Linked DNA regions of Homo sapiens. The protein of the gene in region 1 purifies or fractionates together with the protein of each later gene. This does not show direct contact. Each region holds a gene or a part of one and is shown in the gene's direction. Other genes may lie near its edges. The genes, in order: C8orf76, EPS8L2, IQGAP2 and SLK.

Evidence for each region.
Region 2: the proteins of C8orf76 (region 1) and EPS8L2 purify together in Homo sapiens (affinity purification with mass spectrometry; one large-scale study listed by BioGRID and IntAct). This does not show direct contact.
Region 3: the proteins of C8orf76 (region 1) and IQGAP2 purify together in Homo sapiens (affinity purification with mass spectrometry; one large-scale study listed by BioGRID and IntAct). This does not show direct contact.
Region 4: the proteins of C8orf76 (region 1) and SLK purify together in Homo sapiens (affinity purification with mass spectrometry; one large-scale study listed by BioGRID and IntAct). This does not show direct contact.

What each region holds. Positions count from the first base shown.
Region 1 is NC_000008.11:123,230,661-123,235,176, reverse strand, and holds part of C8orf76 (uncharacterized protein C8orf76), read left to right. Parts: intron 1-3,419; coding exon 3,420-3,877; intron 3,878-4,516. Other genes in the region: ZHX1-C8orf76 (zinc fingers and homeoboxes protein 1), read left to right, coding at 3,420-3,877.
Region 2 is NC_000011.10:715,499-720,014, forward strand, and holds part of EPS8L2 (epidermal growth factor receptor kinase substrate 8-like protein 2), read left to right. Parts: intron 1-4,516. UniProt on the Homo sapiens protein: Stimulates guanine exchange activity of SOS1. May play a role in membrane ruffling and remodeling of the actin cytoskeleton. In the cochlea, is required for stereocilia maintenance in adult hair cells.
Region 3 is NC_000005.10:76,671,972-76,676,487, forward strand, and holds part of IQGAP2 (ras GTPase-activating-like protein IQGAP2), read left to right. Parts: coding exon 1-12; intron 13-1,477; coding exon 1,478-1,618; intron 1,619-1,980; coding exon 1,981-2,065; intron 2,066-2,505; coding exon 2,506-2,738; intron 2,739-4,516. UniProt on the Homo sapiens protein: Binds to activated CDC42 and RAC1 but does not seem to stimulate their GTPase activity. Associates with calmodulin.
Region 4 is NC_000010.11:103,972,896-103,977,411, forward strand, and holds part of SLK (STE20-like serine/threonine-protein kinase), read left to right. Parts: intron 1-4,516. UniProt on the Homo sapiens protein: Mediates apoptosis and actin stress fiber dissolution.

The sequences.
Region 1 (4,516 bases):
TGTGTGGTAACTGTGGTAAGAAAATGGCTTTCTGGTAGTAAGTGACTCCTTTTCATTTATCCACTCAGCACTCAACAAACATTTCAGTCCTACTATTTTCCTGGTTCTGGGTTCGATGCTAAGGAGACAAACAATATATCGTGTACATGCAGTGCTCATCTAGTGTCTGGTCGGTTTAGCCAGCGCACATATACATCAGCTCTTTTTTTCTTTTTGAGATGGAGTCTTGCTCTGTTGCCCAGGCTGGAGTGCAGTGGTGCGATCTTGGCTCACTGCAGCCTCCTCCTCCCAGGTTCAAGCAATTCACCTGTCTCAGCCACCCAAGTAGCTGGGATTATAGGCATGTGTCACCACACCTGGCTACATTTTTTTTTGTTTTTTTGTTTTTGTTTTTGTTTTTTTGTTTTTTAGATGGAGTCTCGCACTGTCGCCCAGGCTGGAGTGCAGTGGCGCGATCTTGGCTCACTGCAACCTCCGCCTCCTGGGTTCAAGCGATTCACCTGTCTCAGCCACCCAAGTAGCTGGGATTAGAGGTGCCCGCCACCACATCTGGCTAATTTTTTGTATTTTAGTAGAGACGGGGTTTCATCATGTTGTCCAGTCTGGTCTCGAACTCCTGAGCTCAGGCAGTCCACCCGCCTCAGCCTCCCGAAGTACTAGGATTATAGGGATGAGCCAATGCGCCCAGCCTTTTTTGTATTTTTAATAGAGACAGGGTTTCACCATGTTGGCCAGGCTGATCTTGAACTCCTGACCTCAAGTGATCTGCCCACCTCGGCTTCCCAAAGTGCTGAGATTACAGGGGTGAGCCACCTTGCCTGGCCATATCAGCTCTTCGTAAGTACCTTTTATTCCTTGACTTTTAGTATAACTGACTGTAGCTCTCCTGCTTACCAGCCACGTTATGGCAGGCAAGTTATCTAACCTCTCTGTGACCCAGTTGCCTTATCTGTAACATAAGGAAAATTACTGAATCTATTTTAAAGCACTGTCAGGAGGATTAAATGAGGAAAACACTTAGAATAGTGCCTGGCACTGCGTAAACACTCAGTAAATGTTAACTGTCATCATCATGTTATTGTTACAGAAAGAGTTGCAGTATTCTGGAAAAATCACTCACTCATTTAAATAGATTTTTTTTTTTTTTTTGAGATGAAGTCTCGTTCTGTTGCCCAGGCTGGAGTGCAGTGGCATGATCTTGGCTCACTGCAAGCTCTGCCTCCCGGGTTCATGCCATTCTCCTGCCTCAACCTCCTGAGTAGCTAGGACTACAGGTGCCCGCCACCACACCTAGCTAATTTTTTGTATTTTTAGTAGAGATGGGGTTTCGCCATGTTAGCCAGGATGGTCTCGATCTCCTGAACTCATGATCCGCCCGCCTTGGCCTCCCAAAGTGCTGGGATTACAGATGTGAGCCACCACGCCCGGCCTAAATAGAATTTAATTTCCAGAAGGAGTTTACTAATCCACCTCTCAAAACCCTACTATTGACAGGGCGCAGTGGCTCATGCCTGTATTCCCAGCACTTTGGGAGGCCGAGGTGGGCGAAGGTCAGGAGTTCAAGACCAGCCTGGCCAACATGGTGAAACCGCATCCCTAATAACAATTTTAAAAACTCTCTTGGTGTGGTGGTGGGCACCTGTAGTCCCAGCTACTTGGGAGGTTGAGGTGGGAGGACTGCTTGAACCTGGGAGGTGGAGATTGCAGTGAGTCGAGATCACGCCACTGCACTCCAGCCTGGGCAAAAGAATGAGACTCCATCTCAAACAAACAAAACCCTGTCATCAGGATCATAGTTTGTGAGTAACAGCCTCCACCCTAACACACACTTGCTTTATCAATATCAAAATGTTTTTGAGGCTGGGCACAGTGGTTCATGCCTGTAAGCCCAGCACTTTCAGAGGCCGAAGGGGGTGGATCACTTGAGGTCAGGAGTTCGAGACCAGCCTGGCCAACATGGCAAAACCCTGTCTTTACTTTATGCAAAAATTAGCTGGGTGTGGTGGCAGGCACCCGTCATCCCAGCTACTCCGGAGGCTGAGGCAGGAGGATTGCTTGAACCAGGGAGGCAGAGGTTGCGGTGAGCTGAGATCGCACCATTGCACTCCAGCCTGGGCGACGAGAGCGAAACTCTGTCTCAAAAAAAAAAAAAGTTTTTGAACAATATAAAGCCCTATAGACTGGTTACAGAAGAAGGGTAGCATTTGTTACAGATGTAGTCTATACATGTTGTTTTCCTTATAAATGACATGATTTGACTTTAGAAAAGTCATTACTCAAACGTGATTTAACATCTGTGATGGCCGAGGAGCTGTGCTCTGTACTAGGAATTTACATTGAACAAAAGCTCTTATGGAGCTAAATGGTCTGTTGGGAAGGACAGATGCTGAACAATAGTAACAATAAAACGAGATGTGTTCTGTCTTTGGGAAGGTACAGTGTCAGCAAATCAGTCGTATGGGGCTTTATCTCCTATCTTTTCACTCAATGTGGGAATATTTAGAGCTGCCCGCAGGCCTTCACTTGCTGGTGTACAGTTTCCTGGGGCCGTACACCAGGTAGTTTTGCTCATGTTTCATGCTCAGTGTGGTTCTGTGAGGGAGCCTGATCTGGACGCTTGCAGGCCAGGCTTTCCTTAGACCTCACATCAACTTGAAGGTAATTTGAGTCTGCCATCTGCTCTCCGCAAACTTCAACTTACAAAAAGCAGGCCTGTTTTTACTAACCCAGAGGACATTTGCCATATGGCAAGTTAGGCAAGAGATGTTGGCGCTGGTTAAGGAGATTTGAAAAGGATTTTCTGATCAAAAGGAAACTAAGCAACCCCTTTTGGCCAAAAATTATAATTGACCTTGGTAATGGTTACCAGGGAAGGCATTTGGATTCAATTAGAATGCGTCATGAAGCATGGAGAGCTTCAGGGCTATCCTGTTTAAAATGTCTAAGCCAAATAAAATTTGGAAGTGGAGTTTGTTCAAATCCTCAAGGAAATTACCATTTGGATTTTTAGAAAGCCTTGAATATTACAATGGAATCATTAGGCCAGGATCTAAGAAAAGTGGCTGGGTCTTTCAGATACCTGGCTGAAGACAGTAAAGATTATAATAAAAATTGGAAATAAATGGATATTTATGTTTTTGATGCTGAACATTTGGCAGGCCACCATCTAGGAATTGTTAAGTTATTATGACATTAGGATGTTTGGGAATGGCTGGTGACTCTTTCTCTAGGTAGCATATATCTCTCTGGGTTTACGGTTTCAAACATGAGATATATTGAAATATATTTAGGTCACTCGTATAGCTACTGAAAGATACTTCTAATTTATAACATATACAACTTGGTTTTTTAGGCATTCTCATTTTATATGGAAAATGCTTTGAAGTTTAAACTTCTTAACCTTTTTTTTTTCTCCTTAGGAAAATAAAGCAACCAACACAGACCATTTAACCACGGTACTCTACCTCCAGCTTGCTATTTGTTCAAGTTTGCAGAACTTGGAGAAAACAATTTTCTGCCTGCAGAAACTGATTTCTTTGCATCCTTTTAATCCTTGGAACTGGGGCAAATTGGCAGAGGCTTACCTGAATCTGGGGCCAGCTCTTTCAGCAGCACTTGCGTCATCTCAGAAACAGCACAGTTTCACCTCAAGTGACAAAACTATCAAATCCTTCTTTCCACACTCAGGAAAAGACTGTCTTTTGTGTTTTCCTGAAACCTTGCCTGAGAGCTCTTTATTTTCTGTGGAAGCGAATAGCAGTAATAGCCAGAAAAATGAGAAAGCTCTGACAAATATCCAAAACTGTATGGCAGAAAAGAGAGAAACAGTGTTGATAGAGACTCAGCTGAAAGCATGTGCCTCTTTTATACGAACCAGGTAAGCTGAGAGTCACTTAAGCAACGCTTGGTAATCAGCTCAGAGTAAAGGCTTTATTTTCTAATTTTAAGCTTCAAAAAGTTCTAGGCTAGACATTTGGTATATATTTTTGAAATTTTCCTATGGTTGTGTTGAACGTTTGTCATTCTAGTGTGTAATACTTGGAAACAAAACTACATTTGTTTAAGAATACAACCTGTGTTAGCTGGTGTGGTAGCACATACCTGTAATCCCAGCATTTTGGGAGGCTGAGGCAGGTGGATCGTTTGAGCTCACGAATTTGAGACCAGCCTGAGCAACATGGTGAAATCCCATTTCTACAAAAATTTTTTTTTGAAAAGTTAACTATGCGGGCCGGGCGCGGTGGCTCACGCCTGTAATCCCAGCACTTTGGGAGGGTGAGGTGGGTGGATCACAAGGTCAGAAGATCGAGACCAGCCTGGCCAACATGGTGAAACCCTGTCTCTACTAAAATACAAAAAATTAGCTGGGCATGGTGGCACGTGCCTGTAGTCCCAGCTACTCAGGAGGCTGAGGCAGGGGAATCGCTGAACCCGGGAGGCGGAGGTTGCAGTGAGCTGAGATCGTGCCACTGCACTCCAGCCTGGCGACAGGGCAAGACTCCGTCTCAAAAAAAAA
Region 2 (4,516 bases), on another chromosome or scaffold:
CTTTGGGCTCTGTTGATTTGTGTCTGTCAGTAGTCTGTGTAAAGTGCGTTGACCTCCTCTTAATTTTCTACCTTCCACTTACTGTGGGTTTTATTTGATTCACTTTATCTTTTTCTTTTGTTTTTTTTTTTTTTTTTTTTGAAATGGAGTCTTGCTCTGTCGCCCAGGCTGGAGTGCAGTGGCACGATCTTGATTCACTGCAAGCTCCGCCTCCTGGGTTCACGCCATTCTCCTGCCTCAGCCTCCCAAGTAGCTGGGACTACAGGTGCCCACCACCACGCCCAGCTAATTTTTTGTATTTTTAGTAGAGACGGGGTTTCACCGCGTTAGCCAGGATGGTCTCGATCTCATGACCTCACGATCCGCCTGCCTCGGCCTCCTAAAGTGCTGGGATTACAGGCATGAGCCACCGCGCCCGGCATTGATTCACTTTTCCTACCTGCTTAAGGTGAAACCTTAGATTATTTATCTTTTTTTTTTTTTTTTTTTTCTGAGATGGAGTCTCACTCTGTCACCCAGGCTGGAGTGCACTGGTGCAATCTCAGCTCACTGCAACCTCCGCCTCCTGGGTTCAAGCGATTCTCCTGCCTCAGCCTCCCAAGTAGCTGAGGTTACAGGCATGCACCACCATGCCTGGCTAATTTTTGTGTGGGGTTTTTTTTTTTTTTGAGACAGAGTCTCGCTCTGTCACCCAGGCTGGAGTGCAGTGGCACCATCTCAGCTCACAGCAAGCTCCGCCTCCCAGGTTCATGCCATTCTCCTGCTTCAGCCTCCTGAGTAGCTGGGACTACAGGCGCCCGCCACCCCGCCCGGCTAATTTTTTGTGTTTTTAGTAGAGATAGGGTTTCACCGTGTTAGCCAGGATGGTCTTGATCTCCTGACTTTGTGATCTGCCTGCCTCAGCCTCCCAAAGTGCTGGGATAATTTTTGTATTTTCAGTACAGACAAGAGTTTTGCCATGTTGGCCCAGCTGGTCTCAAACTCCTGATCTCAAGTGATCCACCCTCCTTGGCCTCCCAAAGTGCTGGGATTACAGGCGTGAGCCACCGTGCCTGGCCAGATTATTGATCTTAAGTCTTTCTTCTTTTCTAAGATATTCATGGAAAGCTCTACATTCTCCTTGCAGCACTGGTTTAGTTGTATTCCACAAATTGTGATATGTATGTTCAGAATGCTTTCTAGTTTTCTTGTGACTTCATCTTTGATGCATGGGTTATTTAGAAATATGTTGCTTTGTTTCTAAACATTTGGGGATTTTCTGGTTTTATTTTTATTATGGGTTTCTACCTTAATTCTGTTATGATCAAAAAACATATTCTGTACTGTTGCAGTCACTTGAGATTTACTGAGACTTGTTCTGTGGCCCAGCAGCCTGGTTTTTCTTGTTTGGTTGTATTGTGTGTTTCAGGTTTTACTCTGCCTCTCGCAGAGAGATGAGTGGCCTCATAGTCCCTTGCGTGTTTCTGCACACTTATTTTATTTATTTATTTATTTTTGAGACAGAGTCTCGCTCTGTTGCCCAGGCTGGAATGCAATGGCACGATCTCGGCTCACTGCAATCTCTACCTTCCGGGTTCAAGTGATTCTCTTAACTCAGCCTCCTGAGTAGCCGGGGTTACAGGCGCCCACCACCACGCCGGGCTAATTTTTGTATTTTTAGTAGAGACGGGGTATCACCGTGTTGGTCAGGCTGGTCTCGAACTCCTGACCTTGTGATCCACCTGCCTTGGCCTCCCAAAGTGCTGGGATTACAGGCATGAGCCACCGTGTCTGGCCCTGTGCCCACTGTAACCTGTTGGATCTGCCCACTTCTTTAACCTGTTGATGGACATGTAGGCTGGGTCCAGTCTTTATTATTACAAATAGTTCTGCATTGAGCAGCCTGGTACCGATGCCACATTTTGCACGTGTGCAGATTACCTGTAGTAGAATTGGGAGGGGATGGTGTGTGCAGCTTTAGAGGTGCCACTGGCCTCTCCCCAGAGAGGCTGGGCAGGTGCTGGATGAGGGCATCCTTTCTCCACATCCTAACCCATAAGTAAAACCCACAATGACTATTAGTATTGGGCAATAGAATAGGTAAAAAAACACAATTCCTGGCTGGGCGAGGTGGCTCATGCCTATAATCCCAGCACTTTGGGAGGCACAGGCAGGAGGATCGCTTCAGCCCAGGAGTTCAAGACCAGCCTGGGCAACATAGCAAGCCCTTGTCTCTAGAAAAAATAAATAGGCAGGGCACAGTGGCTCACGTCTGTAATCCCAGCACTTTGGGAGGCCGAGGCGGGCAGATCACAAGGTCAGGAGATGGAGACCATCCTGGCTAATATGGTGAAACCCCATCTCTACTAAAAATACAAAAAATTAGCCGGGCGTGGTGGCAGGCGCCTGTAGTCCCAGCTACTCGGGAGGCTGAGGCAGGAGAATGGCGTGAACCTGGGAGGCGGAGATTGCAGTGAGCCGAGATCGCGCCACTGCACTCCAGCCTGGGCAGCAGAGTGAGACTCCGTTTCAAAAAAAAGAAAAAAAAAATTGTTAACCAAAAACCAAACAGAGGCTGGGCATGGTGGCTCACGCCTGTAATCCCAGCACTTTGGGAGGCTGAGGCGGGCAGATAACCTGAAGTCAGTAGTTTGAGACCATTCTGGCCAACATGGAGAAACCTTGTCTCTACTAAAAATACAAAAATTAGTCGGGTGTGGTGGTGGGTGCCTATAATCCCACGTACTCGGGAAGCTGAAGCAGGAGTATCACTTGAACCCGGGAGGCGGAGCTTGCAGTGAGCCAAGATCACACCACTGCATTCCAGCCTGGGGGACAGAGCGAGACTGTCTCAAAAACAAAACAAAAACTAACAAACAAACAAAAAAACCCGCCAAACCGACAAAACACTAAAATAAAAGAGGCTCAGAGTTTCAAATTGTAATTCTTTCATTCAATGGTGTTGCATACAATTTTTTCTTTGAGTTTTTGCATGCTTTTTTAATTTTTTTTTTTTTTTTTAGTTTGAGACAGGGTCTCTCTCTGTTGCCCAGGCTCAGTGCAGTGGCACGAACATGGTTCACTGCAACTTTGACCTCCTGGGCTCAAGCATTCCTCCCACTTCAGCCTCCCAAGTAGCTGGGATGACAGGTGTGTACCACCACACCTGGCTAATTTTTTAATTTTTTTAATTTCTTTTTTTTTTTTTTGAGATGGAGTCTCACTCTGTCGCCCAGGCTGGAGTGCAGTGGCACGATCTTGATTCACTGCAAGCTCCGCCTCCTGGGTTCACGCCATTCTCCTGCCTCAGCCTCCCGAGTAGCTGGGACTATAGGCGCCTGCCACCACGCCTGGCTAATTTTTTGTATTTTTAGTAGAGACGGGGTTTCACCATATTAGCCAGGATGATCTCAATCTCCTGACCTTGTGATCCACCCGCCTCGGCCTCCCAAAGTGCTAGGATTACAGGCATGAGCCACTGCGCCCGATCTTTTTTTTTTTTTTTTGAGACAGAGTCTTCCTCTGTTGCCCAGCCTGGAGTGTAGTGGTGCAATCTTGGCTCACTGTAACCTCTGCCTCCTGGGTTCAAGTGATTCTCCCACCTCAGCCTCCCGAGTAGCTGGGATTACAGGCGCCCGCCACAATGCCTGGCTAATTTTTTGTATTTTTAGTAGAGACAGGGTTTCACCATGTTGGCTAGGCTGGTCTCGAACTCCTGACCTCAGGTGATCCACCCGCCTCGGCCTCCCGCAGTGCTGGGATGATAGATGTGAGCCACCGCGCCCGGCCACACAAACTTTTATGTTTTGCGTTTTGTGGTTGTCTTTGACTGTCCTGTAGTTCAAGTTAGTGTTTATCCAGCTGTGCCAGCATTGTGCACCGAACGGCCAACCCTTCGTGGGAGGGTTTTACTTAGTGAACACGGCAGCTTGGCTGGAGGAGGGGGCCTGAGCCAGGCCTGGAAAGAGGAGAGGTGAAGGGCACAGGGCAGGGGCCAGGCTGGCCGCAGATCCTCAGGGATGGACGCATCCCGCACACACTTGTCGAGGGTCCTCTGTGCACCAGGCTTTGCCCTGGACCTGGGGACACAGCTTAGCAAGTGGCAACCGGAACAGTGCCTTGGAGTAGCGAGCACGCTGGACGCACAGCACACCACGTGCAGCGCGACGTTGGGTCTGATTCAGGGAATTAGGGCAGGTCGGGATGGGGTGACGGCTGGCATTGTAGCCAGGTGGCCACAGAGGGGACGTCTGAGAAGGAAGAGAGCTGGGGAGGCTGGCAAAGCTGGTGCAGTGGGCGGGTACTGAGCCTGCACCAGGAGGTGGGCGGGTGAGGATGGTGGCGCGGGGCCGGGCAGCAGTTGGAATTCCTTTGAGGATAGTTTCAGGACACAAGCATGGCCCCTACAGATGCCTGCCAAGGCAGAATAGAGACTCCCCCCACCAAAGGCGGGGCCGGTCCCCGTTCTAGCCCCCTACCCAGGGTTGGCTGTGGCCCCTCAGCCCCTCAGGCTGTGGCCCCTGGGGGCTGGGCTTTC
Region 3 (4,516 bases), on another chromosome or scaffold:
TGGAGAGGCCAGGTAATAGAATCAGGAAGGTGTTGGTCTTCTGTTATGTTTTATGATATTTTTACATGTGTATTTATTGATACTCTTAAACTTTGTTAGGCGAACTGTACAAAGTCAGTTATCAATCCAAAATGTTACCTCCCTTTAACATATCCATGCAAATTACATCTTGATACTAAATGGTATTTTCACATTTCAGAGCCAGGTGATCCCCAATGCCACAACTTCCATAATTCTCTCCCTTGTTTATTTTCTTTGTGTATTTCTAAACCTAGACCTAGAGATGGTGTAGACTCTCTCTTCACCTGATAATACGTACTTTTCTTTACAGTTACCAGGCAAGTAACTTTAAGGTGTAAGGTTTAACAATCCAGGTTGGATTGGCTTATTCTGGGTGGGTGGTTGTAGATTTAAGCAACCCTAGCTTCTTGTTTCCTGTAAAAGGATGTCTGTGAAATAAAGTGTACACAGAGAATTATGTAATTATGTGGGTGGTTGTTACAGTACTGTTTGTAATAATAAAAAGTCAGGAAAAGTCAAAATATTTAGCTTTGAGGGATTTGTTAAATAAATGTTTGTATAGCACATAATGGAATAAGTATTTGGAATCGTGGTATAGATATACATTTGTTGGCACAGAAAAAAATGTTCAGGGTATATATTCCAGTTGGAGTTAGGTGCAATAACCCATTTTTCTGGGAAAAGAATGCTCATTACATACGCCACACAGGATCTGTATAGAATGTCGATTACACAAATTGCATTACACCCATCAATATGCGAGGCCCACAGACATACATGCACAGAGGAGATTGGACAGTTATGCACTAAGGTATGAAAATTGGTTGTCCCAAACACCGCATATTCTCACTCATAGGTGGGAATTGAACACATGGACACAGGAAGGGGAACATCACACTCTGGGGACTGTTGTGGGATTGGGGGAGGGGGGAGGGATAGCTTTAGGAGATATACCTAATGCTAAATGACGAGTTAATGGGTGCAGTACACCAGCATGGCACATGTATACATATGTAACTAACCTGCACATTGTGCACATGTACCCTAAAACTTAAAGTATAATAATAATAAAATAAAAAATAATTAATTTAAAAAAAAGAAAAGAAAATTGGTTGTCCTCTCTGGTATTGTTTTAGATTATATGTGATTTTATTTTTCTGTAATGAACATTTGCTTTTTATAATTAAAAGAAATTTAGCTGAGTCTAAATTACCTGGGTCTGCCTCTTATCTTGCCAGAAGAGACCAGAGGGAAGGCCTCAAGTCCTTCCTGTTCCAAGTTGCAGAAGGTACCCTCTGTGAAGGTGGAGCCTCCCCTCATTTAGTAAACATTTTGTTACTGGAGTCAGTGGCAAAGTCCAATTCACTATACAAAGCTTGACTATAGAACCAACTTGGCAGCAAAATTAATGCTTGTACCTAAGCCTCCAGTTAATTTAAAGCCTTTGTGTTTTCAGCAAGTTGCCTTATGATGTGACCACAGAACAAGCTCTAACATACCCAGAAGTGAAAAATAAACTGGAGGCTTCCATTGAGAACCTGAGAAGGGTCACCGACAAAGTCCTGAATTCTATCATTTCTTCCCTTGATCTACTGCCGTAAGTTGTACTTGCAGCAAGTTTAACATTCTTTCCTGGAACGTTCTTGGAATACGATGTAAAATAAGCCCCTGTAGTGAAGACAGCAGTTTTCCCTTATATTGTGTTTACTATTTTAAAAGATTGCCTACATTTACCTTTTAAATTCCTGACTGTTCTCTAAAGAAGGGGCAATACTTCAGTAGCAAACACAGCTCAGTTATTATCATCAGTGGAAGTCCTGTGATTCCATTACCATCTCATCTTATGTTTAATTTTTAGAAAAACTACTCAGCTGAAGTTGACTGGAACAATTGCTGTGTGTTTTTTCCTCACTCCGCCTTTTTTCCATTATTTTCTTTTGTCATCTGTTTTATATGTAGTTATGGATTGAGGTATATAGCCAAAGTACTGAAGAATTCGATCCATGAGAAATTCCCCGATGCAACAGAAGATGAGCTATTAAAGGTAGATTTTCAAGGGTAATCTCACCATAGCTTCTCCTGGGGGTATGAATCAAAATTACCAACATATAACTTTGTAAGATTATTCCCCATGTATGATTATTTATAATAAGCTGCAGGTCTTCTGTTTCTAATGACTCTCAAGATAATTGATTAAGCTGAGGTTAATTTGGAGATCCTAGACATTATTGAAATTCTTTGCATTAGAGCATTTTGGGGGCAATGAGCATTTTTTCATCAAAAATAACTTTGCAAATTATGCTATTAATAATGTGTGATTATATTCATTGCCTTTATTAAACTCCTTGTTAGGATTTACATCAGAAAATGATCTGCTTTCTCTTGGGAAATGTAGGAGAATATATATCTTTAAAAAAAAAAAGAAAACTAAAACTCTTGAGTTTTCTCTCTTAAAAATGGTCATGCACTTCTGCGTCACTCCAGATTGTTGGAAACCTCCTGTACTATCGGTACATGAATCCAGCCATTGTAGCTCCAGATGGCTTTGATATCATCGACATGACAGCTGGAGGTCAGATAAATTCTGACCAAAGGAGAAACTTAGGATCAGTGGCCAAGGTTCTTCAGCACGCAGCCTCCAACAAGCTGTTTGAAGGAGAAAATGAGCATCTCTCATCTATGAACAATTATTTATCAGAGACGTATCAGGAATTCAGGTGAGAGGGGCCCTTAGTTTTGGAGAAACGTGCAAGAATGGTAGGCAAGAATAATATGTGCTCTGTGCCCAGAGCTAGAGTGGGCATGGAGGACAGGAACCCCAGGTGGTTACAAGCATTTCTTCTACCAGCCACTGGGGAAAGAGGAGAGAGGGAAGTGCAGGCAAGATTGCCTCTGTCTGGCGATCCTATCGCACCCCCACCACAGCACTCCTATTACACTGAGTCTTTTCTGTGTGTATTATTTCTGCTGCTGACAAAATGGCATACTTGTTCTTCCTTGTATGCTACAGGCTTCCAGTACCTAGAATTTAAAAATCAAAATAGCAGATTTCTGCTTCTTTCAACTTAAGAAGAGAGGAATCATTTTTAAAAAGTTTTCCGGTGAGGAAGAACTTGCTTATCTACGTCAGATACATTTGACCCTTGATTAACACAGGTTTGAACTGCTCGGGTCTATTTATATATGGATTTTTTCAACCAAAGACAGAGAGAAAATACAGTATTCATGGGATGCAGAACCCACATATACAAACAGATGACTTTTCACATACATGGGTTCCACAAGGCCAATTTCAAACTTGAGTATGCACAAATTTTGGTGTGTATGGGGGTCCTGGAACCAATCCCCCAAACATACCAAGGAACGACTGTAGTAGGAAATGGAATACTTGATTTTGAAAGGTTAGGAAAACCCAGATTTTATATTTGTTGATGATTGTGTATGTGAATATGTTCTGTTCTATTCTCAAGCCTTTCTTAATGACACATGTAAGAAGATTTAATTCTATTGATTTTGTGTTTCCAAATTATATCACTAATCATTAACAAGAAAGGCATGAGTCTGGTAGTCAGATTCACTCCTCCTGGAGCTCTGAGGAAACACTTTCCTCTTGTCATGTTTGTTCTCATGTCTGCCATTTAATCAACAGGCCATAGAAGTGTAACATCAGTTTGGCCTCTTTTAATCCTCACTTGGAAACTCATTTCTCATTCCTCGGTCTCCCTTGGAGTGAGTGACTTACTAGAAAACAAAGGTAGTTCATGATTATTCATTTCTATTTAGAATTTGTGGTCTTTTGTGAGAAAATTGCCCCAAATCCTCCTACTACAGAAAGTGTTGATTTTTCAAGCTAATTTTTCATTCTCCTCACTGACTAACAAAGTAATATCCAGGCTGGGCAACATAGGGAGACCTCATCTCTACAAAAAATTTAAAAAATTATCTGGGCATAGTGGTAAGCACCTGTAGTCCCAGCTACTCAGGAGGCTGAGATGGGAGGATCACTTGAGCCTTGGAGGTCAAGGCTGCAGTGAGCCGTGTTTGTGCCACTGTACTCCAGCCCAGGTGACAGGGTAAGACTCTGTCACACACACACACACACACACACACACACACACACACACACACACAAAGTAATATCCATTTCCCACATTTCTCATGAACTTTTAACTGCTGTTATTCCTATCAGTCATTTATGTTCCCACCTATTCTTTATTTAAAAAGAAACAAGACCAAAGAAGTGAGCCTCTTCTAAACTTGTCCTTTCTTCCACTCATATTTATCCTTTGTGTTTCTCAGAAATCTACAAAAAATTATAACCAAAGCAGCATAGGAAAGCCGACTGTTACATGGGAACATGCTCCCCACAACAGGGCTCTGCTGTTTAACCTCCCCCAGCCTCTGGCTGGGAAAGCAGAGGTCATTTCTGGTACATAAGACCCAGGTGCCTGTAGGAGAGATGCCGACAATGATTTCAGGCATATGAAACATTTAC
Region 4 (4,516 bases), on another chromosome or scaffold:
ATGTTGATTGTGTGTGTGTACAATATATGTGTTTTGAATTTTAACCATTTGCTGGTGATAGTTATTGCTAATATAGTCTCATTCTGAGACCTGTCTTTTCATTCTCACTGTAGTGTCTTTTTATGAATTCTTTAACATGGTCCAATTTGTTAGTTTTTTCCTTTACAGTTGATGCTTTTTGTGTTATGTTTAAGACATTTCTTCCTAATGTGTGATCATGAAGATAATCTTCTATATTATCTTCTAAAAGCTTTATGATTTTGCTTTTCTTTAACAATTAGATCTATAATCTACCTAGAATAGATGTTTGTAAATGGTATGAGGTAGGGGTCCAGTTTCATTTTTTTCCCCATATGGATACACAATTGTCCCAGAACTATTTGCTGGGAAGAAAAATAATTCCCCACTGCTCTGCAGTGCCCTGTTATGTAGCATGTGTCTGTTTCTGCATTCTCCGTTCTCTTCATTGATCTATTTGTCTATTCCTATACCAGTATCCCACTGTCTTAATTAGGAAAGAATTAAAATAAATTTCTGCTGCTTCTTCAACATAGTTTAGTAGTATTGTTGGCCCTTAGGGCTTCTATGTACATTTTCCAGTTAGCCTGGTTGAGTGCCACAAAAAATCTGTGTTTTTTTGGAGAGATTTCATTGAATTTATAAATCAGTTTTGGAAAAATTAACCTCTCTTTGATATTGAGTCTTCCCACCTGTGCATGTTTTATCTCTGTTTAGGTCTTTTTTACTATCTTAATAATGAGTTACAGTTTTTTTCCCTAGAAGTGGGAACACAAACTACTTCAAGGATGTTTTAAATACTTTGTTTTTCCTGTTAGAATTTCCTCCTTGTTTTTGTTGTGTACAACCTTTAGTAGCCTTCTGAGAAAGGATCCATGGAAAACATATTTTTTAAGAACTTGCCTGTCTAAATATGTCTTTATTATAAGGTCACAACTTAATATATATAATTCTAGTTCAAAAGTAAGTTTTTAAAGAATTTTTAAGATTTAGAATTTGTTAGTTTTGAAGACTTTCTTCCATTCATTATCTTTTGGCTGCAAGAGTTGCTGTTGAATGTCTGATGCCATTTGGCTTCCTGGATCCTTTGCCATCTTTTTCTCTTAATAGCCTTTAGGATTTTCTTTTATCCTCTGTTCGTGGTGATGTACTTTGATATAGGTCTTTTCTTCTTCTTTCGTTTTGCTGTGCTCTTGGTTGGTCCTTTCAATCCAAAGACTTATGTCCTTCAGTTCTGTGACATTTTCTTGTATTATTTATTTGACAGCCTCCACCCACCACTTCCCCCAATAATGACTCTTGCCATGGTCTTAAGATTCTTCATGTCCCTAAATTCAGGGGACACTTACCATCTTACTTGACCTGTCATTACCATTTGAGATACTTGGCCATTCTTTCCTTTAAAAAGTTCATCTTGGCCGGGCGCGGTGGCTCACGCTTGTAATCCCAGCACTTTGGGAGGCCGAGGCGGGTGGATCACGAGGTCAGGAGATCGAGACCATCCTGGCTAACACGGTGAAACCCCGTCTCTACTAAAAATACAAAAAAAAAATTAGCCGGGCGTGATGGCGGGCGCCTGTAGTCCCAGCTACTCGGGAGGCTGAGGCAGGAGAATGGCGTGAACCCGGGAGGCGGAGCTTGCAGTGAGCCGAGATTGCGCCACTGCACTCCCGCCTGGGCCACAGAGCGAGACTCCGTCTCAAAAAAAAAAAAAAAAAAAAAAAAAAGTTCATCTTTTGGCCTTTTTTTTTTTTTGAGATGGAGTCTCGCTCTGTCGCCCAGGCTGGAGTGCAGTGGCGCGATCTCGGCTCACTGCAAGCTCTGCCTCCCGGGTTCACGCCATTCTCCTGCCTCAGCCTCCCGAGTAGGTGGGACTACAGGTGCCTGCTACCACGCCCGGCTAATTTTTTCTATTTTTTTTTTTTTTTTTTTTTTTTAGTAGAGACAGGGTTTCACCATGTTGGCCAGGATGGTCGCGATCTCTTGACCTCATGATCCACCCGCCTCGGCCTCCCAAAGTGCTGGGATTACAGGTGTGAGCCATCTCACCTGGCCCGTCTTTTGGCTTTTAAGTCACCATACTCTTGATTTTCCTTCCACCTCTGTGTCTGTTCGTCACACTCCTTTGCTGGTTCTTCCTCTTTCTGACTTTAAGGTGTGGGAATTCCACAGGGCTTGGGTATAGGCCACCTTCTCCTTTTCTTAAGAGAACCGGTCTTCTCCCATGGCTTCAATTACCATCTAAGTGCAATTTCTATCTTTACCCTAAGACCTCCCTTTTGAACTCCAGATCCACACATCCAACTGTCTATTAGAGATTTCTGCTTGGATGTCTCACAGATACCTTAAACTGCAAGTCCAAAACATGAACTAATTCAGCTCATGATGTCAGTCACAAATTTGCTCCTTCTGTCTTCCCACTCAGTAATTACCACTTCCATCTACCAGTTGCATAGGCCAGAGACCTAGAGGTCATTTTTAACACCTGTTGCTGCCTTCCCCGCCAAACCTAATTAAACACCAAGGCCTGTTAATTCTACCTACTAAATATTTCTCAAAAATACTTCTTTCTTTCTTCACTGTCATTTCACTAGTCAAAGCTGCTATCATCTCTTAGACTACTGCAGTCTTATTGGTATGTTTTTGGGCTTCATATAATCATTTACATGATTCTTTTAATCCTGTAATCATTTAATATATTCCTTTGTGTTGGGCTTCTTTTGCCAAACATTATATGAATGAGTTTCATCCATGTTGTTGCATGTAGTAGTAATTTGATCTTTTTCTTTGCTTTATGGTATTTTATGAAATATTATAGTTTATCCATTCTGTAGTATTTGGATTGTTTTCACTTTTTGTATGTTAAAAATATGATTCACGGCCCGGTGCAGGGGCTCACGCCTGTAATCCCAGCACTTTGGGATGCCAAGGTGGGAGGGTCACTTGAGCCCAGGAGTTCAAGACCAGCCTGGGCAACATAGGGAGACCCCATCTTTATTTGTTTTATTATTATTATTTTTTCTTGAGACAGAGTCTCACCTCTGTCATCCAGGCCGGAGTGCAGTGGCGCGATCAACTCCCCAGGCTCAGGTGATCCTCCCACCCCAGCCTCCCAAGTAGCTGGGACTGTAGGCACCTGCTACCATGCCCAGCTAATTTTTATATTTTTTGTAGAGACGGGATTTTGCCATGTTGCCCAGGCTGGTCTCAAATTCTTAGGCTCAAGTGATCTGCCCACCTCGGCCTCCCAAATTGCTAAGATTACAGGTGTGAGCCACCATGTCCAGCCTTAAATTTTTTAAATTAAAAACCAAAAAATACGATTCATGAATATTCTTGTGCCTTTTGGTGCACATGTGCCATTATTTCTGTTGGATATATACCGGGAAGGAATTTTCTAGGTCATAGGTTATACATATCTTCCAAAGCGGTTGTACCAATTTACACTCCCATCAGTAGGGTATGGGAGTTTTCCCAGTTGCTCTGTGTCTTCACTTACACTTGGTATTGTTATTAATATTATCTTTAATGTTTTTTGTTAGCCATTCTGTTGAGTATAAGTGGTTTTATTTACATTTTCCTGATGACTAATGAAGTTGAGTGCCTTTTTATGTGCTTATTCAATATTTGGGTATCTTTTTTTGGTGGAATTCCTGGTTATTTGCCCAATTAAAAAAAAAAAGCTCTATTTTGAGGTATAATTTATATACCACAAAATTCACCCATATAATTTTGTGAGTTTTAGTAAATCTGTATAGTTTTGCAGCCATTACTACAATCCAGCTTTGGAAGCTTTCTGTCACCCCCCGAAAGTTCTCATGTGCCTATTTTGCAGTCTGTCTCTATTCCCACACCAAGCTCAAGATAGCCCTTACTTGCTTTCGGAATGGCTCTGTAATTTTGCCTTTTCTAGAATTTTTTAATAAGTGGAAACATACAATATGTATTCTTAATATGTATGGCTTTTTGCACTTAGCACAGGGTTTCTCAGTGTTGGCACTACAGCCGTTTTGGACAGGATAATCCTTTTTTGTGGAGGGCTGTCCTATGCACTGTAGGATGCATCCCTGACCCTACCCCTTTGTGACAACCTAAAATACTTCCAGACATTGCCAAATGTCTCCTGGATGGCAAAATCAGCACCACTGGTTGAGTGTAATTTTTCAGGATTCATCTGTGTTATTCATTTGTCTATTAAAATTTTTGGTTATTTATATTTTCCTTAATGATTTGTAGGATATGAGGTCCTTTTTCCACAATGTAGATTGCTTTTCATTTATTTAATTCTTTTTCCTGATCCATAGAGGTATTTTTAAATTAGAAAATAAATTTATTAGAAAACAAAGGTTGAAAATAAACAGAATGAACAAACTCTATTTTTGCTTGCCCCAAAACCTCAATAAAAACTGTTATCTGGCCAGGTGCAGTGACTCATGCCTGTAATCCCAGCACTTTATAAGTTTGAGGCAGTAGGATTGCTTGAGCCCAGGAATTCAAG